4 linked regions of the Homo sapiens genome follow. The protein of the gene in region 2 interacts with the protein of the main gene of each other region in a pairwise test. Each region holds a gene or a part of one and is shown on either strand. Other genes may lie near its edges. The genes, in order: THSD7A, VMA21, YIPF1 and DAGLA.

The links.
Region 1: the proteins of VMA21 (region 2) and THSD7A interact in binary tests that used the Homo sapiens proteins (3 or more experiments, as listed by UniProt).
Region 3: the proteins of VMA21 (region 2) and YIPF1 interact in binary tests that used the Homo sapiens proteins (3 or more experiments, as listed by UniProt).
Region 4: the proteins of VMA21 (region 2) and DAGLA interact in binary tests that used the Homo sapiens proteins (3 or more experiments, as listed by UniProt).

Annotation. Positions count from the first base shown.
Region 1 is NC_000007.14:11,633,175-11,640,199, forward strand, and holds part of THSD7A (thrombospondin type-1 domain-containing protein 7A precursor), read right to left. Parts: intron 3,788-7,025; coding exon 2,956-3,787; intron 1-2,955.
Region 2 is NC_000023.11:151,400,191-151,407,215, reverse strand, and holds part of VMA21 (vacuolar ATPase assembly integral membrane protein VMA21), read right to left. Parts: intron 3,586-7,025; coding exon 3,476-3,585; intron 2,301-3,475; coding exon 2,158-2,300; 3' UTR 1-2,157. UniProt on the Homo sapiens protein: Required for the assembly of the V0 complex of the vacuolar ATPase (V-ATPase) in the endoplasmic reticulum.
Region 3 is NC_000001.11:53,872,773-53,879,797, forward strand, and holds part of YIPF1 (protein YIPF1), read right to left. Parts: intron 5,951-7,025; coding exon 5,870-5,950; intron 5,631-5,869; coding exon 5,543-5,630; intron 1-5,542.
Region 4 is NC_000011.10:61,675,490-61,683,391, reverse strand, and holds the start of DAGLA (diacylglycerol lipase-alpha), read right to left. Parts: upstream 3,002-7,902; 5' UTR 2,888-3,001; intron 2,581-2,887; exon of another isoform or gene 2,560-2,580; intron 890-2,559; exon of another isoform or gene 792-889; intron 1-791. UniProt on the Homo sapiens protein: Serine hydrolase that hydrolyzes arachidonic acid-esterified diacylglycerols (DAGs) to produce the principal endocannabinoid, 2-arachidonoylglycerol (2-AG).

The sequences.
Region 1 (7,025 bases), on a different chromosome or scaffold from region 2:
CATATTTCCTTTAACATCTTTGGTTTCTTGGAGAAACACCTGGTATACTTTCATACCATCTCTTGGTCCTGCTAAGATTTCACCCAGCCTGGCTGGAAGTCACTGGTTTACAGGGAAGCTTCCTGTGTCCTAGTGTATGTGTAGTGATTTAGAATTCTCTTCCACTAGTTGTCAAAACTTTAATCCCTCAGTCTGTCAAACTGATAGTCTTTTGTTGGCAATAATAGCATAGTGGGCTTCCTGCCTATTATGCTATTCTGATTTCAAGCAGAACTCAAGTATGCTTCAGCAGCCCTTTTCATTGACACAGACCATGTCATGCTAAGGAAGTGTCATTGGCTTGTCCCCTCAGAAAGTTCAGGCTACTCTTAGAGATTCTGAGTGTTCATGAAAGCTGTAACACATAATGCCCTTCTAAGTGTCCTCCCTAAGTTGTGTCTAATTTTACCACATTAGCCAAATTTCTGTATCAACTGTGGTTTGGGACTGTAACCGTTTCCTGCTGTCAGAATAGAGTTTCATTTGTGTTTTTCATTCTTATTGATTTTGGTCTATTGGAAAGTGGAAAGCAGGGCAGATCCATCATTGTTAACTTAAACATTTGAGCAGTAATTCTAAAATTATTTTTGTCTATGATCTGCCTCCCCAGATTCTTGGTTTTATTTAGTTAAACTTATGCAGTTACTATAATGTAATTTTTAGCCATATTAAATTATTTTTATTCTCCTACATGGTAAAATTGTTTCTGGATTTAATAGAAGCTAAAACATTTTAAATTTGATCACTAAGTTCTTGATTTGTGGCCCTGTGCTTTGGTGATGTCATTGATTCACTCTTCACTTTATTGGCTTCACTGATATCATGGTATAATATCTGAGCAAAACGTAGGTCAAAATATCTGATTTTTATCTCTTCTTCTCTAGGACTTTCTTGATCACACATGATAATTCATATATAATAGAAATATTCACAGCCAATATATTTAACATAAAGTTTAACCTATACTGTAATAAGTCAGAAAATATATGCAACTATCAATTTATTGGAAGTTATATATGCTATTTCTAATGGGATACAAGTTCCTGACAAATAAACTCTGCAGTTTTAAATATGTTTGTTTAATTCAAACAACTGGATGAGAATATTAGGCTCTATGCAATGGTAGCTACTAACCTAATTACACTTTTAATTGAGTAGTCAACGTTAAATTAAATGTCTACAGCATGCTAACCCAGTGATAGCAGGAAACAACTCAACTTGTCTTGGAGACTCATTCAATTATTTGATGTCAGCCAAGTAACTAATATAACTGTAATATACTTCAGGAAAAGAGATAAGAAAATCACCAGAATAAGGATAGTCAGAAAAGAACAAAATAGGAATTGAGTTGAAAATATACATGATACAGAATCAGAGGTACACACACACACACACACATACACACACACACATTTAAGGAGTTGTAGGAAACCTGGAGAATGAAGGCAGAACAACAGCCTTCATTCAAGGCCACAGGACCAGAACTAGAATGGAAAAAGGGCAAATTACCGTACAGCTGAAATAAAATGCAATCGTGTCAATACAAAGAGGGGAGAGAGTAGCAAAAATTCCAAAAAACAGTAACCAGAACTCTATGATGAGAGAAAGTTATTGTCTTAGACAGACCAATCAATTTTTGTTTATCTAATTAAACTATATCCTTTTCCAAAAACACTTTAAACCAGATTTCAAAATCTATGCATAGCAAAATCAGTAGACAAGAATAGATTGAAAAAAAAATCAGGTGAGAAAAAAAATAAAGCTAAATAAAGCTAAAGATATGTTAATAAACAACATGCATGCCACACAGTCCTATTTAGGTTCTTAACAGAAGAAGTTAACATGCAAATGTGGTCTGTTACAAGATTTCCAGAGGCCATAAGAAAAACAATCCAGCTGTTCACCAGAAGCGCAGAGGTCGAAACTTCAGGGAAATTTGTCTTATATGTTTTTTAATCAAGAGAATAGACTGTGTGATAGAGTTGATGACACTTTCAATATCATTTCTACAGTAAATCTGATATACAATTCTTACTGATGTTACTATATTTTTTTCAGTTCAATCCAAATCATAACTGCATAAATATTTCTGAAAAAGCAATTATGCAAATATCCAGATAAGCCACTCCCAGATGGTCTGGTTTATCCAAGAGCAAAATTCAAAATACCCAGAGAACATCATGTCTTTCAGATAATCCTCAATGAAAATTATTTTCACAATAAGTAAATCATACATGAGATAGTTTTTCATAATATAGTCATTATGTACCCAAAGATAATTTGTTAAATAATTTCTGTCTAGAAAATGAAGCTAATTAGTTACATGTTTCCTGAATGAGGCTACTCATGATTCAATACCCTCTACTTACCTTATTTTTGGCTGGTTGCTGTTTCCTTCTCTGGAGGGAGTTATTCCATTATATACAATGTGCAAGAAAATTATTCTTAGGTATAGCTCCCTGGGTTGTTGTTTAGAGCAGATTTTGTTTATAGGGTAATTCTGAAAATGCTGTCTTGGAGAGATTACAACTATGCCTTTTTCTATTAGCTCACTAAAATAAGTATCTGAATTTAAAATCCCAATATTTCAGCCCCTAAGCAATTTTTTTTTCTATTATAGGGAAACGACACTGTCTACACATAGAGAAGAAGCAGTATCTTTTCATGAAGAATTGCTCATGCTCCAGACTTTGAAAGGAAAATCAAAATAACTCAAGTAATACAGGGCCTAAATGTGGACACAATAGAAACAACACCGAGAAACTCACACAAGCTCAGAAGCCTTAAATTTGGGGGTAGCTCATCCTAGGTTGTGCCCCTACGTAATCCAGAAGTTATTAGATAGTACCGGATATCTTAGGTACTCATGATTCTTGACAGACAAGCCTGTGTAGTTAACAGTAATTAAAATGTTACCTTAAATCAGCAGCTTTCCCCGTCTTGTTAATGCACATAACCTCTCTGGTCTGATATCCAATCTGGATGTCCCAATATTTGTTCTCTTGTCTGTTCTGCCTGTTTCTGTTTCTCTTTTTCTTAATAAGCTCGCGGGCTTCTGGATCCTTTACTCCTTTGCTGCGGTCCTTTTCCCGTTCTTTATTCTTCCCGCGTCTCCTTGCTTGTCTTACTTGTCGGGAGTGGGGCATTGAGCAGGTGCTCCAGGGCCCCACATGCAGGCTGTACCTGAGCTCCTCGGCCTCGCATGGACTGGATTGGCACACCTGGAACTCCGTCAGGTTTGGACAGCCAGAGCCTCCGAACTGCGGGGGCGCCACCACATGACGCGTCCGGTGCTGGAGCCCGCTGCCGCAGGTCTTGGAGCATTCGGACCAGGCAGAAAATTCAGACACGATGCAATCTTGCTGGCAAGGAATGAGGCAAGCCTGCTCCAGGAGAGGCTTGGGCTCAAAGTACTCACAGATGATATCCTCCGCAGGAATGTCTTTGTCTTTCTGGATGCACGCTATCTCCCTCACCTGAATACCTTCTTCCCCCTTAATGCACTCAAGAGGTTTCTCTAGGCTTTTTGAAATCACGGGCTGACACTGATTCCAAGGTCCCAGTCTCCAGTCGTACAACTCTTTGTGCCAATCGCAAACTTTGAAACAATTCTGCTGGTTATTGGGTCTCTCGGCCTGCTTACAGTTAGTATGCAGTGTAGTCCATCCCTCCACATGAGCACACCACACAGCCCTCGTTTGGATGCCTCCGGGACCACATTCATCTCCCATACATCGGCCCCATGGACCTACAAAAATTATAACACAAAAATTAGCAGTGCTACTAGAAGAAAACTACAAGTTACTGCACATTCCAGAAAGACCTTTCAAGACCTAGTACATTAACTTCCCTGCGGTGTTACAAAGTAGGTCTCTGGACACGACTGTTGGAAAGTAATGATCCTCGCTAAGTATTTTTGCAAAAGGGGAACTGTGTCACAGAGTCTATATAAGGTAACTTCTGGGACAATTTCACTTTGGGTCCTTTAGGGATTACGAAAAGTTTGGTTTTGTTCATTTCCTTTGTTTTAGGTAGTTAGAAATCCTTGCTGATAAAGGACATCAGAAATTAGTCACAGTGAAAACTCATTACTCCGGCCTCACAATCATCAAATCCATTTCAGTAACTGGCAAAGAAAATGGCCCCGTGTGAAGAACTTCTCCTGCAGGCATTTCTCTTCCTGGACAGTTAACTATTTTGTGGAACTTGCTCTCTTCTTCAACATATTTTATTTTCATAGACTATGACTGCAAGGGTCTAATAGTTGTATATCATGTGTGCCACTAGAGCTTAAAGTGTTCACTCTCTGGTTATCAAAACTAAGAAGCAAAAATCTTCATTTACACACATTCTGCCTTTAAATTTACCAAATTTCCCCCCCATTTCCCAAGTGAAGTATAGAGCTGGGTAAGGGAATTTAAATGTAACTAAAAGACTTTTGCAATTTTCTAATCATTGAGAGGTTATTTGGGGTCTTATTTATTTATTCATTTCTTAAACATGAACTATTTGGTATTACAGAGCTGTTTGATGTGATACTTAAATCAGTGGCTTTAATATGAAATATGGGTTTTTTTCTGTGAAATCCTTCTTAGAATAAACTTTATATTCACATATATTATTTTTTTCTAAGGTAGATGATATGATTTTCAGTACTTTAATAGACAGATCCCAATTTACGAAATTGAGAATTGTATTATTTTGGAATCATAAAGAAACTTAAAGTTCATGTAAGTACATGATTTTCAAAAAGTATTCCATGAATTTGAGAAATTGTTTGATGTGCCTTAAAGCCATTTTCCATCTGTTGTGTGGGAAGGTGAGGGCCAACATGTGGGGTGGGCTCTAGTGCCCCTCACACCCTTACACTACTGTCGTCCTCCCTGATTGATGCTTTTATAAGAAAAACTCTATTTGTATTATTAGTTTTATTCACATGGGGATTATGCATAAGATTATGTCTGCAAGAGGTTTCTACTGTGGAAATTTGAAACCTGCTAAAGTAGGTCAATGGATTCGCTCTACGGATGAGAAAAACAGGAAACAAGAAGGGAAAGTGATTTGCTGAGTTCAAATATTTAATGAATAACAAAACCATTCTGGATTTTAGATTCCAGTTCCAACTTTTAGTTGTATGATTTCTCTTGGACATTAGAGCTTTAGCCTCAGTTAGTTTCTTCTGTACATAACAATTGCTAGTATATGAATAAAGAAATATAAAGAATGTGCCTATCATATTTAATCTAAACATTTAATTTTGCTTAATGAGAAAGATGTTTAAAGTTTGTTGAGAATTTCCTTACAAATGGCATTATGGAGTTGTAAATAGAATAGAGACTTGCTGTAAATATTGTGCTAACTAATCATTATTGCATGAAAGTAAATATTGCATAGTTGGCATACCCGTATCATTCCTTTATGAAGTTTGCATGTACAAAATTATAAGGGATGTAAAATGCTCATGCTTATTAGTGATGTAACATTCTTATAAGGGATATAAAATACTCAAGGAGACTGGGAAACAGTCTCCTTGAAGTATGAATGTTGAAACTTTATGGGAGAAAGCCAGTGGGTTTGTTGCATCTGTCAAAATGCAATCCACCTAATAATATTTTAATCTTATTTTTAACTTGCCAAAGAAAAAATATATATTCACAAATCTGGTGATACTTTCTTAAAGATTTTTCTAAATACTCACTTTGGGAACCACAGAACCTAGGAAACTTCTCAAAATGAGAACCCAGTAATATGTATAAAATTTTCTAATTAATTCCACACATCCTTGGCATTTATTCCCCATCCCCACTGTGCTTGAACAAAACAGTGGTCCTTATTTTCCATCTGAACACAACATATAAAGACATATTTATATCAGACTCTCAAATTAAGAGTAAACTATATGCCATTAAGTCTGAATTTGAAAATATAAGTGTCTTATACTAAATCAGACTCTAAATCCCAGATGTAATTTAGTTGAACTTCCTGATATATTATTTTTTTCCAGTTTTTAAAATTAATTATGAAATTAGACTGACTAATCAGATTGAGGCTACTAGTCTTTTATCCTCAGAGTGTAAACAAATGATTTTTTATAGCAAACTTATAAGGGTGTCACTTAAAAAACATAACTGTACATTTTTAGGTAGGCAGCACTATTATTAATAGTTGTGATTGGGCCGGGCGCTGTGGCTCATGCCTGTAATCCCAGCACTTTGGGAGGCCGAGGCGGGCGGATCACAAGGTCAGGAGATCGAGACCATCCTGACTAACACAGTGAAACCCTGTCTGTACTAAAAATACAAAAAATTAGCCAAGCGTGGTGGCGGGCGCTGTAGTCCTAGCTACTCGGGAGGCTGAGGCAGGAGAATGGTGTGAACCCAGGAGGTGGAGGTTGCAGTGAGCCGAGATGGCACCACTGCACTCCAGCCTGGGCAACAGATTGAGACTCCGTCTCAAAAAAAATAATAATAATAAATAAAATAAAATAGATGTGATTTACTAATTAACACAAATTAATGTTTTATTATAGAAATCTGAGTACACAAAATGTGAATTGACTTCAAGTCTATATGTTATTGCTAAGGAAAACACGCATACTGAAAATAACTTTTTTTCCCTAAAACAACTATGAAACAGAACTATGCTACACTAGTCAACTCTTAAGTCTGAAAATTACCTTAGACAAGATAAGGACTGGTGAAGATATCAAACTCTTACAAACCAAATTTTAGCAAAAAATCTTGGCTTACTTCTAAGTTCATTCTAAAATAAAAGTAGAAGATGGTTGCTTTGAAAATGATTCATCATTTACTGACATCAAATTATGGAGAGCTCCCTTTTTACACACTTCCAGAGTACCATATATGTTTCTCACGTAATGTTTAAATGTTAGTCACACTTTCGGTTAGTAGAATCAGTAATTTTTTCAAATATTTAATATCTGTTTATCACATTAGACTGACTCTATAGCCCCTTGAGGACAGGCC
Region 2 (7,025 bases):
CCTGGTTTAAATACTTGCAGAAAAATACCCATGTATCATCACCTATTCAGCAAATGCCTGAAACCAAAACAATAATCCAACATTGGACAGTAACATTTTACAAACAGCATAAGATCCCAAAAGCACAAGAAATACCTTGGCATTATATAAAAAGAAATTAGGTGGACAATTCTAAATACAACAATACTTCTTAATTAGGGACCATCTAGAAATCTACCACATACTACCCTAGACTCAAATGTCATTATACTAAAATTGTAGTCTTTAAGCAAGAATTAAAAACAGTTCCATAATAATCATACTGATCTTTCACTTTTCTCAACAGTTAAACACAAATGCTATTTGACTTTTATGACTAATCATCCCTCTATTCCTTTAGTCCAGTTTCACAACATAAAAAATAAATGTGAACAACAAATCGGTAATGGTTTCACATACTTAAGCAAGAATCCTAGTATTAGGATTATCAGTAACAGAAAATTTGAATTTTAAGAGAATAAAGATAGAATGTGCTTATTTAGAAAATGGTCAATAAGGCCGGGCGTGGTAGCTCACGCCTGTAATCCCAGCACTTTCGGAGGCCGAGGCGGGTGGATCACCTGAGGTCACAAGTTCAAGATTAGCCTGGACAACATGGTGAAACCCCGTCTCTACAAAAAAATACAAAAAAAAATTAGCCAGGCGTGGTGGCAGGCATCCGTAGTCCCAGCTACTTGGGAGGCTGAGGTGGAGAATCACTTGAACCCAGGAGGCAGAGGTTGCAGTGAGCCGAGATTGCACCACTGCACTCCAGCCTGGGCAACAGAGCAAAACTCTGTCTCAAAAAAATAAATAAATAAAATAAAGAAAAAGAAAAAGAAAATGGCCAATAATCACTCATCTGAAAAAAATGCAAATAGCTGTCAGGAAAAGCTGGCAGAATTTGAACTTGTAAGCTAAACTTTTAGTGTGTATCAAACTAGCATTAAGGAATGGCTTTCAAAAATGAATACGGGATATCAACTAAAATAGAGGTTATTTTTAGATGGCAACATTATGGGGAATTTTGATTTTTTTTCCTGTTTGAATATGTATTTTTCCAGTTTTCTACAAAGAACATATACTATGATTTTATAATTAAAAAACAAATACTTGTGGGAGTGTTTTTAGATTGCACATAATTAGTACCAAATAACTAGAAAGAACACAGACTAAAGATACGAAAATAAAATCAAGGTTTTTTTCCATCAGATATGCCCAAGGAGAATACTTTTTGGATGAAAAAAAAATGTTTTCCAGATTGTTTCCACTCCTAACATATGCAAAAATGAACATATTTAAATGCAAATTCCTATCATATACACTACAATTTTAAAAAATAGTAAAAAAAACAATTTTAAATGGAGCTTCCTCGAACCTTTTAATTGAAGCCTAGCTTCAATGTTGAATGAGGAAGCAAAGTATCTCATTAAAAAGTTGGTCTGCAAAGCACAAAGCTGGCCTGCAAGGGGACTTGAAGGAAGCAGGCTGAGTGTTTGAGTAGTGAGATCTTTGCTTTGCTCTTTAGATCCTTCAGTAAGCTAAGGTCCTTTTACCTGAATGGATGTAATTTAGCCTAGTTTTCCCATAAAATAATGTAATGGATAATTCTTATTGACTAGGGATTACACTTCATGTGAAATTCCTCAGTGACATTCAGATTAATTCCAGTGTCCACAATTTAAGCAACTTTCCATAGGAAATTAAAATCCCAAATCCAAGGACCTGGTATTTTCATGCTAAAGAAAGCATTCCAGCGTAAAGTGGAGTTTAATTTGCTTCACTGTGTGCATCTTAATATATCCAAATGAGTAAAACTCAAAAGCAACCGTAAGTCAGAATACTATAAAACATGTTTTGTTGAAAGAAGATAAAATTCCTTCCAGAGTATTGTCTAATTAAATTAACATATTTCTTTGTAACTAACTTTTCCAAATTCTCATTTGCAAATCAGATTCATACAGTTAAAACTGAATATACAAACCAACATATTAGAAAGATCAAAATTTACATACTCAAACGTGACTCCTTAAGACTGACTTTAACATGTTCTTTCAACTTTATTCAAATCAGATGGCCCCCTCCAGCATTTATCATTTTAAAAAATGAATTTAATGCTATAAAAAGGTGATGTTCACTTTAATCCTGTTTGCCTTCACGCCACTGTCGTGAGCCTTCATTCCAGGCCACATACACAAAGAGGGCCAGCACCACATGGACGGCGACCACTGCAACAATAGCAGCGTAAAAATAGCTGTCCCTATTGGACATCCCAAGGGCGCCTATCAAGAGAAAAAAAACAGTTTCCATTTTATTGCAAAATTTACCAAAGTACAAAAAAAAAAAACAAAGCATCCTAATTTTTATGATGTATTTATTTAACTAGTCAGGCAATTAAAAAGTAATATTTTGGGTGGTAATGAATAAAGTATTCACTAAAAGATATGAGTACCTTCTATATATTAAGAACATTATGTTGGCCGGGTGCAGTGGCTCACGCCTGTAATCCCAGCACTTTGGGAGGCCAAGACGGGCAGATCACGAGGTCAGGAGATGGAAACCATCCTGGCTAGCACCGTGAAACCCCGTCTCTACTAAAAATACAAAAAAAATTAGCCAGGCGTAGTGGCAGGCGCCTGTAGTCCCAGCTACTCGGGAGGCTGAGGCAGCAGAATGGCGTGAACCTGGGAGGCAGAGCTTGACGCGAGCCGAGATCGCACCACTGCACTCCAGCCTGGGTGACTGAGCGAGACTCCGTCTCAAAAACAAACAAACAAACAAACAAACATTGTTTTAAACAAAACCATAATTATAAAGACTTCAGGCCGGGTGCGGTGGCTCACGCTTGTAATCCCAGCACTCTGGGAGGCCGAGGCGGGTGGATCACCTGAGGTCACGAGTTCGAGACCAGCCTGGCCAACATGGCGAAACCCCGTCTCTACTAAAAATACCAAAAATCAGTCGGGTGTAGTGGCGGGTGCCTGTAATCCCAGATACTCAGGAGGCTGAGACAGGAGAATCGCTTGAACATGGGAGGCGGGGGTTGCGGTGAGCCGAGATCGCGCCATTGCACTCCAGCCTGTGCAACAAGAGTGAAACTGTCTCAAAAAAAAAAAAAAAATTTCAACATCAAAAAGGGGACTTCATTCTCTCTTCCTTCCGTTATCTGACACTAAAGTCCATTCCCCCAAAATTCCTCCTCCCATGTCAGCCAACCCCTATTCTTTAAAAGGTACTAAGAGAAAGGATTTGCAAGCTATTTCACAGAAAACCATAGGAAAACTGTCAAGCTGAAACAATAAGTTATTTCATAAAGACTCATTATGAGCAATATGATTTTTTGAAAAGCTAAACAAGAAAAAAATAAGAATACCCAGTTTAAAGATATAAAGAGGTCATAAAAGCACAGAATCTTAAATTGGGGGAAAACATCTTGTTTTAATGGGTCTAAGATTACCTTCAAATATGTAAGATTTAGTTGTGAAATATAACCCAATAGGAACAGTGATCATTAAAGCTGTGAAGAACAGGAGCGTCTTCAGTGTAGATGCTAATGAGCTTTCATTTCTGGAATAAAGTAAACAAAGAGAAAATCAGAACCTGCACAGTCATATCCAAACGCTCTTATGTCCCTGAAACTATAAACATCCACAAATGAGATGCTATGCAGGAGGAAGATCACAGGCAGGGACTCGTAATCCGAAGATCCTAGAGAACCAGCTGTGGGTAGTGGGAATTTCTTGAGCTGGAACATGAAGATTATACACCACCTTTAGGGACTGTCATTCATATCCAGTGTAAGACGAAGCGTCAGGGCACCTCAGATCAACTGCCAACAAGCTGGGTGAACAAACTAAGTGAAGAAACTCAGTGCCCCTGCCTCTGGAACTGGAGCTTTTACCCAGGGAAGCCACGGCGGACAGCGGCACCAGTGCCCAACCCATGCGGCAACCGTGTCCACCAGCACCAGACACCAGAGCTGGGAACGCAGCAGGCACCATGGGTGGATCAGCGCGCCCTCTTTTGCTGGAATCAGAGCTTCCGTCACGGGAAGCGACCAGCTTGCTGTCCTCCAGCATGAGACAGTGGACCAGGGAACTAACGAGGCAGACACACCTGTGCACCCTCCCACACTGGAATCAGAGCTTTTGCCCAGGGAAGCCACTGTCACACTGGTCCCTGAGCCCACGCAGCAACCCTGACCACCAGCACCGGACACCAGACCAGGGAACTCGGCAGGCACCACAGGTGGAGCAGTGTGCCCTCTCCCGCTGGAATCGGAGCTTGCATCTGGGAAAGCTGCCAGCCTCCTGTCCTCCAGCACCAGACAGTGGACCAGCAAACTAACCAGGTGGAGCCGACGCACCAGCGTGCCCTCCCCCACTGGGATCAGAGCTTTGGCCCAGGGAAGCCACTGCCACACCAGTCCCTGAGCCCGTGCAGCAACCCTGACCACCAGCACCAGACACCAGACCACTGAAGGAGGTAGGCAGGGCGAACGGACCAGTGCGCCCTCCCCAGCTGGAATAGGAACTTCTGTTATGGGTGAAAAATCGAGCTAGAGGGAATACTTCCAAACACGTTTTAAGAGGCTCCAATCACCTTGATACCTAAGCCAGACAGACACAGCAAGAAAACTACAGGACAACATCACTGATGAACACTGGTGCAAAATTCCTCAATAACATATTTTCAAACCAAATTCAACAATAATCAGGCCAGGTGTGGTGGCTCACACCTGTAATCCCAGCACTTTGGGAGGCCGAGGCAGGCGGATCACTTGAGGCCAGGAGTTCGAGATCAGCCTGGCCAACATGGCAAAACCCAGTCTCTACTAAAAATACAAAAATTAGCTGAGAGTGGTGGCGTGTGCCTATAGTCCCAGCTACTTGGGAGGCCAAGGCACAAGAATCCCTTGATCCTGGGAGGCAGAGGTTGCAATGAGCCAAAATCACACTCCAGTCTGGGCAACAGAGCAAGACTCTGTCACAAACAAACAAAACCAATACATCAAAAAGATTATATATTATGACCAAGTAGGATCATCTCAGTTGATGCAGAAAAAGCACTTGACAAACTTCCGCATCCTTTACTGAGCTGAAAAAGAAATCAAGAAAACAATCTCATTTATAATAGCATTAAAAAAAAATACTTAGGGGCCAGGCTCAGTGGCTCATGCCTGTAATCCCAGCACTTTGGGAAGGCTGAGGCTTGAGGCCGGGAGTTTGACGCAAGCCTAGGTAACACAGCAAAACCCCACCTCTACAAAAAAAAATTTTGATAATTCGCTGGGCATGGTGGCACGTGCCTGTAATCTCAGCTACTCAAGAGGCTGAAGTGGGAGGATTGTTTGAGCCCCAGAGGTCAAGGCTGCAGTGAGCAGTGATTGGGGCACTTTACTCTGGCCTGGGTGACAGAGCAAGACTCTATTTCAAAAAAAAAGAAACTTAGGAATAAATTTAACCAAGGCGATGAGTGACTTGTACACTGAAAAGTATAAAACACTGATGAAAGAAATTGAAGATGACACAAATAAATGTAAAGATATCCTGTGTTCATGGATTGGAAGAATTAATACTGTTGAAATGTCTACAGCACCCAAAGCAACATACAGATATAACACAATCTCTATCAAAATTACAGTAGCATTCTTCATTAAAATAGAAAAACAATCCTAAAATTCATCATACAGAACCACAAAAAGCCCCAAATAGCCAAAGCAACATTGAAAAAGTTGTAAGCATCACACTTTCTGATTTAAAATATTACAGTTATAGTAATCAAAACAATATGGTATTGGCATAAAAACAGAAACATATAACAATGAAACAGAATAGAGCCCAGAAATAAATCCAAACATATATGGCCAACTAATCTTCGACAGGGGTGTTAAGAGGAACACAATGGGGAAAGGACAGTCCCTTCAATAAGTGGTACTGGGAAAACAGGATTTCTACATGCAAAGAAAAAAACTGGACTCTTACACCATAAACAAAAATCAACCCAAAATGGATAAAATAACTAAAACATAAAGATATAAAGTTTTAAGACATAAAAGAACACAGAGGGAAAGGTCCTTAACATTGGCCTCAGTAATGATTTTTTGGATATCACACCAAAAGCTCAGGCTACAAAAGAAAAAATAAAGCGGCTTGCATCAAACTAAAAAGCTTCTGTACTGCAAAGGAAACAATCAACAAAATGAAAAGGCAGCTTACAGACTAGGAAAACATATTTGCGAACCACCTATCTTGTAAGGGGTTAATACCCCAAAATTTATAAAGAACTCTTACAACTCAGCAGAAAAACCACCTGATTAAAATATGGACAACAGCTGGACAGACATTTCTCCAAAGACATAAAAATGGCCAAGAGATAAATGAAAATGTGCTCAACATCACTAAATCATCAGGGAAATGCAAATCAAAACCACTATGAGATATAACCTCACACTTCTAAGGACAGCTATTATCAAAAAGGCAAGTGATAACAAATGTTTGTAAAAGTGTGGAGAAAAAGAAACCCTACTACATTGTGACTGGAAATGTAGACTGGTACAGCCATTATGGAAAACAGTTCCTAAAGAAATTAAAAATAGAACTACCACACAGCCCAGCAATCTCTCTTCTGGAATATAAGCAAAGGAGATGAAATCACTACCTCGTAAAAATATCTGCACTTCCATGTTCATTGCAGCATTATTCACAATAGCCAAGATTTGAAAACAACCTACGTGTATGTAGACAGACAAAATAAAGAAACCGTAGTGTATATATACAAGGGAATATTTTATTCAGCCTTAAAAGAGGACATCTGCCATTTGCCACAACATGGATGGACCTGGAAGACATGTTAAGTAAAATAAGCCAAACGCAGAAAGACGAATACTACATGAGCTCACTTATATGTGGAATCTTTAAAAAAAAAAAAAAAAGGTCAACGGTCAACTACACAGGGACAGAGAATAAAACAGTAGTTACCATGGCGGTGGGGGTGGGAGGCTGGAG
Region 3 (7,025 bases), on a different chromosome or scaffold from region 2:
ACACAAGCAATCAAATGGGTATGCTTCAAAAAGTCACCAATATTAGCTCTCCACAAACTGCCTCTTTACTCACTAGACTGAAAGCTTTCTGCTGTAGACAAGGACTAAATCTCACAGTATTATTCTGAGTGACCACACATAAGAGTGGCAAAAAAAACCAACAACAAACAAAAAACCCCACAAAGCCCCTATAGCCAAAAAGCTTTACTGAATGAATAAATCTGACCATGTGTTATAGATGAGCTGAGACCATCCAAGGGTATGACCACAAGTGGCCAAAATATTAACTTACAATACCCAAATAACTAGAAAACCAAGAATATTATGTCCTCTCAGTCATTATTTACTAAGTACCCACTACCCTCTGCTGGGGACACGATGATGGGCAACAGAGACACAGTCACTGCCTCTAGTGCACCCATGCACTCCGGGGAGACGATCAATAAAATATCTAATCTCAGAAGGTAGTACAGGGTGCCTATGGGAGCATATAGGGAAGGTGGAAAACCTAGAGAAAGGGATGTGTAAGCTGGGATCTAAAGAAGAACAGGAGTTCACCAAGTGAGGACAGAAGAGAAGAGAGGTCCGTGAAGAGGGAATAGCAGGAGCAGAGACTGAAGTAAGAGGTACCAGTTCGAGGCCAAGCTTCAGGTCAGGAGTAGCCAGAGATTGAAGAGATGGGCCAGAGTCAGATCATGAAGGGTCTTAGAAGCCCTGTTGAGTTAGGAATTTATCTTGAGGGCAACAGGAAGCCTGTGAATTGGGCCTGGTGGCTTAAGCCTGTAGTCCCAGCTACTCAGGACACTGAGGTGAGAGGGTCACTTGAGGCTAGGAGTTTGAGGCAGCAGGGAGCTATGATCATGCCTCTGAATAGCTACCGCACTCCAGCCTTGGCAACACAGCAAGACCTCATCTCAAAAAAAAAAAAAGTGGGGGCGGGGGGGAATGCGGTGGCTCACACCTATAATCCCAGCACTTTGGGAGGCTGAGGCAGGCAGATCACTTGAGCTCAGGAGTTCAAGACCAGCCTGGGCAACATGATGAAACCCTTTCACTAAAATATTAATTAACTTTTTTAAAGGCAGGCTGGTATGGGAAGATATGTATACTAATGTGAAGACTTATCTAGCATTCTCTAGCTGCCCCATGCTCTAAGCTACCTAACAACTCTGGCACGGGAACAGCTGGAGAAACAATATTTTCAGGTGGCCTGAAAGGTCCAACACCTGCCCACCCACTACCTCTATGTGGCCCAATGCTCATCCTTGGACACAAGCAAGATAACTTTCCCAGCCCTTAGCATTTTTGTCCCTCTCCTATTATCATCCCTCTCCCCCGTTTGCAACCCTTCACTGAACCTCCACTGCTTAAGGACAAAATCCTAATTCCTGAGGCTGATATAAAAGGCCCCAGGATCTGGGCTCTGTAACTTCTCCAGCTACCCCCAGTGGAAGGCTGGACTCCAGAGACTTACGACACCCACTCATCCCAGGACCTGCCATGTTGCTTCATACTGCCTTCTCCGTTTCCTGCCAAATTCCTACTCTTATTATGGGTTGGGGGTGGGAGAGAGCCTTAATTTAGGTTGTATTTATAATTAAAATTTCATATTATGCATTTTTATATTATGAAATATTTCTAACATACAGAAAAGCACGAAGAATAACACAAACACTGGTTACCTAGCATGTCACTTTTAAAAAATATTTTTAGGCCGGGCATGGTGGTTCACACCTATAATCCCAGCACTTTGGGAGGCTGAGGCAGGCAGACCATTTGAGGTTAGGAGTTTGAGACCAGCCTGGCCAACATGGTAAAACTCCGTCTCTACTAAAAATACAAAAATTAGCTGGCGTGGTGGCACATGCCTGTAGTCCCAGCTACTCGGGAAGGCTGAGGCAGGAGAATCACTTGAACCCAGGACTCAGGGGTTGCAGTGAGCCGAGATTGCGCCTTTGCACTCCAGCCTGGGTGACAGAGTGAGACTCTGTCTCAAAAAATATATATATATTTTTAATGGTATCATTCTATTCATATCCTTCCACAACATGCTTTTTAAAATCATTGTGCTAAGATTTATCTATATTTATGCTTTTAGCTCTCATTCATTTTTTTAACTACAGAATTCCATGTATAAATATAGTAGCACAATGTATCCATTCTCCTGCTGATGGATATCTTGGTTGTTTCTAAATATTTGCTATTACAAGCAATACTGCTACAGTGGATAATATTCTTCTATATGTTGTTCCATATATATGTGAATTCCTCTAAAATTATCTACCTAGGAGTGAAACTGCTGAATTATAGGGTATAAGCATCTTCAAACTGCTCCAATTTGTGTACCAGTTACATACCCACCAGTTACATACCTACCATACAAAAGTTTCCACTGCTCCATATCCTTGGCCACACTTAATATCAATGTTCATGAAATCTGACTTAGAGTATGTCACTCCTGGCTTGGGGCAGTGGCTCATGCCTGTAAGGTCAGCACTTTGGGAGGGTAAGGCAGGAGGATTGCTTGAGGCCAGGAGTTTGAGGCCAGCCTGGACAACATAGTGAGACCCTGTCTCTACAAAAAATACAAACATTATCCAGGCATGGTGGCACATGCCTGTAGTCCCAGATACTCATGAAGATGAGGTGGGGGAGGATGGCTTGAGCCCAGGATTTTGAGGCTGCAGTGAGCCATTATCGAGCCACTGCACTCCAGCCTGGGCAACAGAGCAAGACCCAGTCTCAAAAAACAAAAAAGTATGTTACTCGTCTGTCCAAACTCTCCAATGGCTTTGCATTCAAGCAAATGCCAAAGTCCTCACTGTGACTTATGAGACCTTACCTGTCCCTCCACACTGTCTCTCTCACCTCATCTCCTTCTAGGTCCCCCTGTTCACTCTCATCCAGTCGCAATAGCCTCTTGAGGTTCTTTGAATGTACTAGGCTAGCTCTTGCCTCAGGGCCTTTGCACTTGCTGATCCTTCTGTTTCAAGTGCTCTTCCCTTAGATATCTACATAAATCACTCCCAATTACTTCAGGTCATTACTCAAAATTCACCTTTTTAAATTTTCAAATTCACCCATTTATACAAACACTTCATGTCCTTCTTCTCTCTGCTATTAAATTTTCACCTAAGCATTCATTACTAGAAAACTATATATTTTACTTTTCTTTGCTTATTGTTAAGCTCAGTAAATTAAAAATTGCCTAAGGGTAGAGATTTTTATGTTTTCACTGCTGTATCTCCAGTACAATAGCAAGAGCTCAATGTTTGTTGAATGAATTGAATGAATAAATGAAGACAAGCCAAACTGTGTATGTTTACTAAAATAATGAGCATAAATAATCTTATTTTACTTTTTATTTCTCTGGTTGCAGGTGGGGCTAAGCATCTTTTCATATATTTATTGGCAATTTTTTCCCCAGAGTTGCTTGGTTTATTCTTCTAATTTGTGGGAGTTCGACATATATTCTTGTTTCTCACTGTTTGTTGGTTATATGCATTGGAAGTATGTCCCCTGGTCTGTGGTTTATTTTTTTACTTTACTTATGGTTTATTTTGTTGTGTAGAAATTTTAAATTTTAGGTGAAATGTAGTCAAAGTTATCAATCTTTTCCTTACACTCTGTAAATTGTCATCTTTTTCTTAACTGCCTTCCTCTAACCTCCACCCACAACAAAACCTAATCCTCTCTGCTATCAAACACTTCACCTATATTGTACCTTCTTCTTTTAACCACGTCTATGAGCTAATGAGGCTACTAGTGTCACAGAAAAGAAGCAAGCCTTGGATTCAAGCCCTGGCTTTGTCATGAGAGGCAGTATAGCATAGTGATGAAGAAATGGATTATGAGCTACAGTGTTGATTTGAAAATTGAGCCCAGCACTTACTAGCTGTATAATCTCAGGCAAGTTACTGGACCTCTGTGTGACTCAGTGTCCTCATCTATAAAATGGGGATAATAATAGTATCTCCCTCATGAAGTTGGATCTGGCATAAGGATTAAATGAGTTAATACAGGTACTGCCCTAATAATAGTGTCTGGCACATAATAAGCATTATATGTGTGTTTGCCATTATTATTGCTAACTCTGTAACTACGGGCAAGTTATCTCCTTAATCTCAGTTTTCTCTTTTGTAAGATAAGGCTACCTTGGAGTATGGGAAATAAAATAGCATAAAATACTAAAATAGTGCTTATCTCCACGCTTGGCACTTATAAGGTATTCAACAGATGTTAGTGTTCTCTCTTCTTCCTCATTGGGGCTAGGGACCATGGCCTTATCTTTAAATCCTCAGCCTCTAGCACAGAGTCTAGCATAAAATAAGGTGCTAAAAATTGTTTGAGCACCTGCTGTGTGCCAAGGCCTCTGCCAGGCACTAAAGACACTGAGGCACAGAGCCTGCCCCTCAGGATGTTCTCAGGCTACAAGTAAGAATGAATGAGACAGAGAAACCACCCTGACAACCCTCAGATGAAAAGCATGGGCCAGTGCAATGGTTTTCACACCAGGCTCCCTAGAGTCCATATTTAAAATCAACATATATGACTGCTTTACTATTTATCATTTCTGATTGAGCATATATATCAATGATCCTCACTGAGCATCAGCTTCCTCATTTGAAAAGTGGGGATACTTTGCAAGGGTTGTTGCAAGAATGAGATATGATCAAGTACACACACAGTCTTTGGTACAGCACCTGGCACACGGACAGCACTCTCTTCTCCCCTCAAACACAGGCCACTGTTGGGGCCTTTTCCTCAGGAGTACTGGGTGGACCTCTGAGTTTTTCTCAGACAGCATTAAGGTCAGGGATGACAACAATCCCCGGCCCAATCCTGTTTTAGACTTCCACTGCTGGTGACCAAATCCTAAAAGGAGCCAGCTCATCTGAGGGCAGAGCTGGAACTCAGCATATCAATGAAAAAGTGTGAGAATACCTTCTCCTCCAACATCAAATGGTCCAATCTCCACCTAGTCAAAGTGACTAAATTTGTCTCAAGTTGTAAAGTTATTTGAAGAATTTTTAAAAATCATTCTTTTTATTTTTATTTTTTAGTAGAGATAGGGTCTCCTTATGTTGCCCAGGCTGGTCTCAAACTCCTTGGGCTCAAGCAATCCTCCTGCCTTGGCCTCCCAAAGTGTTGGGATTACAGGCGGCAGCCACTGTGCCAACCCAGCCTTTAGTAGAGACAGGGTCTTGCTATGTTGCCCAGACTGGTCTCAAACTCCTAGCCTCTGGCAATCCTCCCATCTTAGCCTTCCAAAGTGCTGGGATTATAGGCATGAGCCACTGCGCTCAGCCCCATTTAAAGACCTTTGAAGGATATACTAGTACTTGTAATGATGACGTGGCACTAATATAACACATAATTGTATTCCTCCAAAATTACTTGCAAGGGTTGCTACTGAAGTTCAGAAAAGTCTAATAATACATGGCATGCCCCACCAATAGTGCAGTTCTCCACATTTCCAGGCAACCCTCACACTCACCCAAGTTCAACTGAAATACGGTAAACAAATCAGTACTAAACATACCATAGAGATCTGGATTGCTGCGGATATATAACCTCACAAAGTTTTTCCCGGGTATTGGCAAAAGAGATCCTTTAATTCTGTCAAAGACCTGGAAAACATCATAGCAGTAATTCTACTGAAGTTTTTTAAGTTTAATAAATTCAACTACTACAAAATTGAAACTCAGTCATTAGAGCTTTTATGATAGTATTTTCAAATGCTAATAACCCTTTACTTTTGTAAGACCATTTTCAGTATATAAAGGCTTTCACATTATTTGGTTGTTCAACCATTAAAGAAACAAGTCTCCTTTACCCGTAAAAGGAAAGGTGAAATTGGTTTCCAAACCTGGTAGGTGTCCACATCAAAGAATGTTTGGTAGTATTCAAATGTCCAGAAGGGGGAGCTTTTCTTCTGTCCAGCAAGTAACTGTCAGAAATAAAATAAAACATAATGAACACATAAGCAATTTCTTAATTCCAGCTGCGTGGGGTGCAGGAGGGATCTGATCTAATGGAAAAGCAAAACGTTTGAAACAATAGGCTCTTCCACATTCAATAACCAACTCTGAAATAGCCAATTCGCAACTCTCAGCCTGATTAGAAAAACAAGCATTGGTTTTGAAGTCACACCAAAAGGGTTCAAATCCTGGCCCCTCCACTGAGGGGAGCTTTGGCAAATCACTAGACTCCTGCTGGGCTTAGTTCCCTTATCTAGATTCAACAGTATATAGAATTATGTACAATAATAAATACATATACACACATACAACACATACAGAAGGCAGTCAGTGTAAATATCTTTTCGCTTTTTTTTTTTGAGATGGCGTCTCACTCTCTTTCCCAAGCTGGAGTGCAGTAGTGCAATCATAGCTCACTGCAGCCTTGAACTCCTGGGCTCAAACAATCTTCCCACCTCAGCTTCCCAAGCAGCTGGGACTACACGCGTACACCACTATGCCCAGCTAATTGTTTAATTTTTGTAGAGACAGAGTCTCATTATTTTGCCCAGGCTGGTCTCAAACTCTTGGGCTCAAGTGATACTCCCGCCTCAGCCTCCCAAAGCACGGGGATTACAAGCGTGAGCCACTGCATCCAGCAGTGTAAATATCTCTTCCTCCCCCATCCATCCACAATCCTCCCTACTATTGCCACCTGAATTCTCAAAAATCTGATATATTGACTCACTCTAAAGTACTAAAAATATTACTACTCTGACAAAAAAAAAAATCCTATTGAGAAGAGGCACCTGAGGAGGGCCATACCCATCCCAACAACACAGCTCTTTGGTGGCAGAATGCATGCCCAATGCCAGGAATTGTGCCTGTCATCTTCAGATATCCGAAGGGAATTCATACAGCAAAAAGTACGGTGAACACTGAGCTGCTTTGCAGGACAAGGGCAGGTGCTATAGGCAGATATTTTTTGTTCATTATAAAGGAAAACGGATGGCCGATTAGAAGTAGCTGTGGTCTGCAGCACTCACAGAGAGGAGTGAAAGCGGT
Region 4 (7,902 bases), on a different chromosome or scaffold from region 2:
AGGCCATGGATACCCCTCAGACCAACATGGGAATGACCAGGGAAGCACCTGCAATGCTGGACAGTGTCTGCGTGGCAGCTACGGGGACAGGGCGAGTCCATAGCATGGAAAAGTCAGCTCACAACCCTGGGTCTGGGAGGGCCGTGTCCTCCTTCCACCCACATGGCTTGACACTGCAGCCTGGGCACAGGGCAAAAACTTTCCTCGGGGAGCAAGGATGTGAAACAGGTTGCTGGCTAAGGCAGACACCCGCATGGAATGCTGAAGAAACGGCCTGGGTGAGAGAAAAACAGGACTTCCAGCGCCATGGGGCAGGGTCTGCAACTCAGGCTCTGCAGCTTGTTGTCGGGAATTAGGCTCCTGGTGGCAGAGAGCAAAGCACTGTGCAGCCACCCTCATCCTCCCCACCTGGGAAGGCACTTCAGCCAGAAGTGGGGCCACATTGGGAGAGGTGCCACACCTGTCTGCCCTCAGAGGTGCCTGTAGCCCCCTTTCCTTTCCCCTATGTGTCTGAGGGCATCCTCCACACCTCCCCCCCCCGTCCCCCTGCCATCCAGCCTCAACCTCCCGCAGAACCATCCAGACCTGAGCCACATCGATCTGTGGATGCTCTGACCCACTTCATTTCCTTCAGGCCACAGCCCAAAAGACGCTGATGTGACTGCTCCCCACCCCCGTTCTCAGAACCCAGAGCCAAAGGAAATTCTCCAGAGAAAACACACACACTTCCCAAGTCTTCCTCCCACACAGGTACCCTAGATCTGTCAGCCACAGACACCTCCCAGACCTACCCTGGCAATGAGGCACGTCTGCTGCCCAAGCAAAGTGCTTCCTCCTGCTTGGGCCACTCCTGCAGGACTTCACAGCTGCCGGGGCCATGCTCAGGACTGTCCTCTGGAGACCGGGGGCCTGGTTCCAGCTCAGCAGCTGACTCACAGTGTCAACAGATCCCACTTGCCCCCACCGGGAGCATGTGCGCTCAGGGCCTCTAATTCCCTATGACAGGCCCTCAACCTTCCGGCTCCCTTCCTCCCAATCACATCCCGTGCCACCATTTCCTATGGCTCCTGCCTCCAGCCCTGGTCTCTTTACTTGATGAGACTCTCTGACCTTTGTACAGTCTTTCGCTGTTTGCAAAGTGTTTCCACGTGCACCATTTCCTTTCATTCTTTACTACCAGACCACCATGTGACATGCCTTGATTGGTGAAGTCACCTGCTGAAGGTCACACAGCCAACACTGGAATTAAAGTGATATGGCTCCAAAGGCATCGGACAGTGCTCCGGTTATAGGGAACTCATCAGCATCTCCAAGCACCCACCTTGGCAATTTGGCGACCACCTGCCACCCTACCCTCAACATCATCTTTTTGGACTCATAAGTGCCTTCCCCAGCACAAGCTCAACCCTGTGATTCTTCTACCACTGATCCCACTCCCCCAAGAGATCCACAAAGAACTGAAGATTTCCCCTACACTGTAAGACTTCTCTAGGAGGAGCTGCAAATTGCTTCTCTGTAAAGTAAGGCACTAGGTGATGCTGAGTGAGACCTTCACCCAAAGCTTCCCAAAGGACTGGTGAGAGCAAACACAATCTCAGCGCAGATGGAGGGGTTTTAACATAGGAGCTAAGCAGAGAGGACAGACAGAGCCCTTGGAAAGGAATTTAAGCCTGGGGGTGGGAGTCCCGGTGGCCCCAGCAGATTCCCAGTGGCTGCAGAATCATCTTTCAAGCATACCCCAATCGATCCAATCCTCTGGACCCAAAGGCTCCCCAGCATCAAAGAAGAGAGGCAACTCCCAGATACCCTGGAGTGAACCCATCAACCCAGGGAGAAGGCAGGACCCCGTGACTACAGATAGATGGTGCGCCATACCACTCCCTCACTCGCTGACCCGGGTTACCTCTTGGTCCTGCTTGCTTCTCAGGACATATTCTGGGACACCGATCACCACTGAAAATCATCCACCCCTCCCTTCATTCCCAAAGCTAGATGAAAAGCTAGATGAATGGTTCTCTCTACCTTAGCCCAGGACAACGGTAGTGCCTGGAAGGTCTCTATCTGGGTTACCATCAGGGCCCTTGTGGTAGAAGCTTCTCCTGGCATCTCTTGTTTATGCCCATTATAAAGGACACCAACCTTCTCCCAGCCTTCTGCCCTCCTCAGTCCAGTGTACCCAACAGGCATTAAAACTGGACCCCCATGACAGAGGCAGTGTCCCCTTCATCGCCCGTGAGGAAGGATGGGCATTTACCCTTCCCATTCATCAGGATGGGAGGGCCACGGACTCCCCCCGCGGCAGTGCCGGGTAGCCCCCCGCACCACACCGTGCCAAGGCCCTTTCTCACAGTCATGCCAGGAACTCTAGCCATGCTGAGAACACCAATTCTTCAAGCCCCCAGTGCTATCACCCCAGATCATGTCAAGCCCAAGGCCAGAACCATCCCAACACCCAAGCAATGGCAGCACTTCCTCACACCCATGCTAGCGGCACCACCATGCCGGCACGAGCTGGCCACCTATCCCATAACCAGTCCGAAGGCCGTGCCCATCACCTACCTGTGCAGACAGCTGCACCACCTCACACCTGCGTGGCCACCACCGCACCAAGGTGGAGGCGAGTCTTCTGAGACCCGTTCCAGGAAAACCACGCCGCCTGTGCCGGACCCACGTTGCCCACGCCCGTGCCACGCGTGTCACCATCCCCACGCTGGTGCCAGGGGCTCCACAGACCTCACACCTGCCACGGGCGCGCGTGGCAGCTGCAACTCCGCCCGCCGACCCGTCGGGCCGGCCACCGCGCGCCCTGGACACTGCCCAGCCCGCCGCGCCGCTCGCACCGCGCCCGCGCCCAGGACCGGCCCGCCGCGCCGGAGGCCCCCCTTACCTCCCGCCCGCCGCAGGGCTCGGCCCGCCGCCGCGACCGCCACCTCCATCCTGGGCTCCCCAAGGCCCCGATTCACTAACGCCGCTTCCGCAGGGCGCCGGCGCCGGCGCGAAGGCCGCCTCCGCCCCCCGGGGGACGCTGCGTCCTTTACGTAAACCCCTCTCCGCCGCCAGCGGTGACCATGGCGACGGTCGTGGGGAGGCAGCGCCCCCTGGCGCCAGGGAGGGGAGCGGCGTCGAGGCCAGGGAGAGCCGAGTCTTCCGCGGGCGCCGGCCCTGCGCGTGGGGGCGGTGGGCGCCTGGCTCAGGCTCGGCTGGGGTCCCGTGGGCGGCCGGGAGGGGCTGGACTGGCCGCGATGCGTGCGGGGAAGGGAGCCGCCTGGGTGCCTGCCCCTCCTTTAGGTCCCTCGTGACCAGTTTTAGCGTGGGAGAGGGAAAAAAGGAAGTAGGATCACTGGAGAACTGGTTCATTTGTGGGGAGGAGAGAGACGGGTCCCACCTCCTCGGGGTGACTGAACTCTGCTTGAGAAGTCAGAGCATGGCTAGAGTTCCTGGCGTGACTGTGAGAAAGGGCCTTGGCACGGTGTGGTGCAGGGGTCTACCCGGCACTGCCGTGGGGGGAGTCCGTGGCCCTCCCATCCTGATGAATGGGAAGGGTAAATGCCCATCCTTCCCCACGGGCGACAGAGCCCGTGGGTACCCTGGGTACCCCCTCCTCCCTACCACCCCCCCACCCCCCACCCCTACCCCCGTTCCCAGTGCCCAGCATCGTGCCTGGTCTCCAAAGGGGTTTACTTGGTCAATTTTGAATTTCTGGTAAATGAAGAAAACCGCCCCTCCTGTTCCCCTTCACGCCCTTTCATTCACCGTAAGTCGCTTACACCTCCCTGGGAGCACTGTGCTGAACTGGGGGAGTGGAGCACAGAGAGGAGCAGAAGGCGGGCCCTGACTTCAAGGAGCTCATTCTGCTGGGGAGGAGACGCAGATGGAGGGGGTTTTAACACAGAAGCTAAGCCGAGAGGACAGACAGAGCCCTTGGAAAGGAATTTAAGCCTGGGGATGGGAGTCCAGTCTGCAGGTCGGGATGACTCAGCTGGGTCCCAAAGATCCAGTAAAGATTCATCAGAGACAAAAAGGGGAAGAACGTTTTCTTTCAGGCAAGAGAAGTGCCTCTAAAATGTTTCCTAGGCCCTGTTGCCACCCCCAAAATCACAGTGATCGCGCAGTTCAGTAGAAGTGGGAGCCATAGGTGAACAAGGAGGTGTGGGTAGTGGGGTGCCCGGCTTGAGCAGAAGCCTCGGTCTGAAAATTACGTGGACATTTGGGTTGGAAATGAGACTGTGAGGCCAGGACTGCCTTTTATTGAAGCAGATGGAGCCACTTCTGGAAGGAGTTCTGTGTTACCTGTGATTATTTAGAAAGCAAACTCACGTAGGTAACAAGGAAAATGAGGAGTGGGCGCATATACCCAGTGGGGCACCTCAGGGGATTCAAGGAGGAGTTGAATTCCTCAAGGCTCAGGAAGGGCAGAGATCAGGGGAGGCTTTAAGGGACAACTGTAGCAGTATCAGTTTAGGGATCTTCTTTCTAGATCATTGCCATTAATCAGAATCAAAACTGCCAGATTGGATGTCTCTTGGTTCAAAGTTCCCGATTCCCAGAAAAAAAGAATCTTATTAGTCCAGATCAGGCCACGGTCAATCAGCTATGGCCAGGGCAGAAAGTGCTTTGTGATACAAACATGTCAGTCCACTTTTCCCCGTTGAGAGACACTCCCAGAGGAGGAGAATCATGACCTGAACAGCCAGTCCAAAGACTGTCGGCCAGGGGCGGTGGCTCATGCCTGTAATCCCAGCACTTTGGGAGGCAGAGGCAGGTGGATCACCTGAGGTCAGGAGTTCGAGACCAGTCTGGCCAACATGGTGAAACCCTATCTCTACCAAAGTACAAAAATTAGCCTGGCATGATGGCAGGTGCCTGTAATCCCAGCTACTCGGGAGGCTGAGGCGGAAGAATCACTTGAACGTGGGAGGCAGAGGTTGCAGTGAGCCGAGATCGTGCCATTGCACTCTAGCCTGGGCAAGAGAGCCAGACTCCATCTCAAAAAAAAAAAAAAAAAAAGGCTGTCTACTACGGATCCATCCCTTAGCTGTCCCATGTACACAAACTCACATGTGTCCATGTGCACACATGTGTCCCGACACACGCCAGTCCTTCTTCCCATTCCTCCAAAGTTGTCTTCACCAGACAAGTACCAACAGTCACCTTCACACTTGATGTCATGAGGCTACTATTATTTCAAGATCTTCAAGGTGATTGATCCCATCTGGTCATTTAACTGAATTAAAGGGTTACTTTTACCATCACCAAATCCTTTGAACTCTTGCTACTCAGAGTGAGACATTGGCACCACCCAGAAGCTTAACGGGAATGCATAATCTCAGGCCCAAGAATCTCAGGTTGGCAACAAGATTCCCAGGTGATTTGAATGCACATGAAAGGCTGAGAAACACCACTATTATAAATGTTAGGTGACCGGGTGCGGTGGCTCACACCTGTAATCCCAGCACTTTGGGAGGCTGAGGCGGGTGGATCACCTGAGGTCAGGAGTTCAAGACCAGCCTGACCAACATGGTGAAACCCCATCTCTACTAAAAATACAAAAATCAGCTGGGCATGGTGATGGGCACCTGTAATCCCAGCTATTCGGGAGGCTGAGGCAGGAGAGTTGCTTGAACCCGGGAGGTGGAGGTTGCAGTGAGCCGAGATCCCGCTACTGCACTCCAGCCTGGGCAACAGAGTGAGACTCCGTCTCAAAAAAAAAAAAAAAAAAATAGGCCCAGCGTGGTGGCTCACGCCTGTAATCCCAGCACTTTGGGAGGCCGAGGCAAGCAGATCACAAGGTCAGGAGTTCAAGGCCAGCCTGACCAACATGGTGAAACCCCGTCTCTACTAAAAATATAAAAATTAGCTGGGTATGGTGGCGCGCGCCTATAATCCAAGCTACTCAGGAGGCTGAGGCAGGAGAAGCGCTTGAACCTGGAATGCGGAGGTTGCAGTGAGCCGAGATCACGCCACTACACTCCAGCGACAGAGCAAGACTCCCTCTCAAAAAAATACATACACACATAAATGTTAGGTGAAAGGAAAAGGAAAGATAACAAAAACATTTTCAAATTGTGATTCATATTTTCTTAAAGGGGGAAATGGTCAACTATTTAATCTTCAACAACTCTAGTAACAAGCAAGGAAAGACAGGGAGGGACTGCAGTCTTTATTTTTGCAATTGGTCACAAACTCCTAGAAGGTACTAGCGAATTCCATCCTCTAACGCCTTATTTCTGTGTTCTGCAGGTCTCCTGCCCGATTCTTATTCAGTCAGGATTCTTTGCCTGACAGACTGACCTAAGCCTTCTTCTTGAGGGCTGAGCCATGGCTGTAAGGCATCTCAGCAGGCTTCCAGCAACATCGACCACTGGGTACAATGATGTAAGAGGTCCTTCACGGGGGTGTGGGTTCTACCCATGGTGTGTGTGTGTGTGTCTGCGTGTGTCAAAGATCCCCAGATGGCCAGTCCCAGTTTCCAGTGGAACCACAATGGTGCCTCCTGATGGATTTGCTCCTCCCTTCCATTCTAAAACCACCAGACACACAATCAAAACCCAGAGCCGCCTGCACAGGAAACAGGCATTTTGATGAGAGAGAGGGGCACCCTCATCACTTCTATTTCTAGTTCCAAGACGCTTTGGAAGAAACATATCAGAAAGGGTGGCTGTTCCAGAGCACACACTCCCCACAGACCTGACCTGGTCCAGCTACCAGAGGTGCATCCTCTCCACGCCAAAGCCATGCCTGGCCTTCTCTCTGAGCACCTTCAGGCCCAGTTCTGACAGCATTTGGCCAGGTGTCTTTGGAGATAGTCACCAGCACTGTGAGCAGACAGGAGCTGGGGAGGAGGACAAGAGCGAGGGCACCAGAACAGACAAGTCGTAGACTGGTCCCAGTCCAGCTGTCAGGCTGTGCTCCCTCCGCTCTGTGCCAAGTTCCCACTCTGGCCTCAGTTTCCTTCTGAGTCCCAGTGGGGATAATAACATGACTCTTCCTCCTGCGGGGCTGTGCAGATTAACTAATTAATGAGTGTGACAGCGTCTGCATCCACAAAGGGGCTGATTAAATGCTGAGTGTTGTTATTAGTAGCTGTGGCAGTTGTGTGACAGGCAGTTGGCTGGAGACAGATCTGCCCCCTGCCTCCTCCCCATGGAGGACCCAGATGGAAGGGTCCTCCATCTGCCCCATGCTCCGCAAGCCGAACATCTTGCAAGACAAAGCCAGGATGATTTTTAGCACCCCAAAGACAGCATAGAACTTTTGCGCATTTCCCCTGTGCTGGAATGTGAGTCACAGCCGAGCTTCATAGTGTAATCTATCTCCGACAGCTGGCACAGCTGTACCCTGCCCCAACTCAGCTCCCAGCAGCTGCAGGATGGGATGGCTTGGTCAGTAACTGCAGTAGGGTAGAGCTGCCTGCAGAAAGACAACTGCAGAATTCCTAAGCTGAGCACCATCCCCTGACTGTATTGCCCTGTGGAGGCAGGGATTGAGTGACCACCTTTCCTCACTGCCTGAGATAGTGGGAGCCAATATGACACCTTGGCTAAGCAGTCAGGGGAATTCAAAGCATGCAGGGTTTTAAAGTATAAAGTATCTGCTCATGGCCGAGGGAGATATAGTGACTATATTTTAGCTTGGCTGCAGGGTATAGGATAACTGGATGAAATCACAGCTCTGGGGCATGATAGCTTTAGCCTAGCTTATTCCCAGACGTAGAAAGTCCAGAGAGGCCTCCGAGCTAAACAGTGAATGTGACTTTGCAATACACAGCCCTGGATCCCGTAGTATGTGTGAGGTCTGTTGCCCACCCCTCCGATGCTGGGTCTTCCACCCTTGAATGTGATGAGTGCTGGTTCCCACCCTGAGTCCTGATGCATCTGACGAGGTGGGTAGGAAGGAACTGCT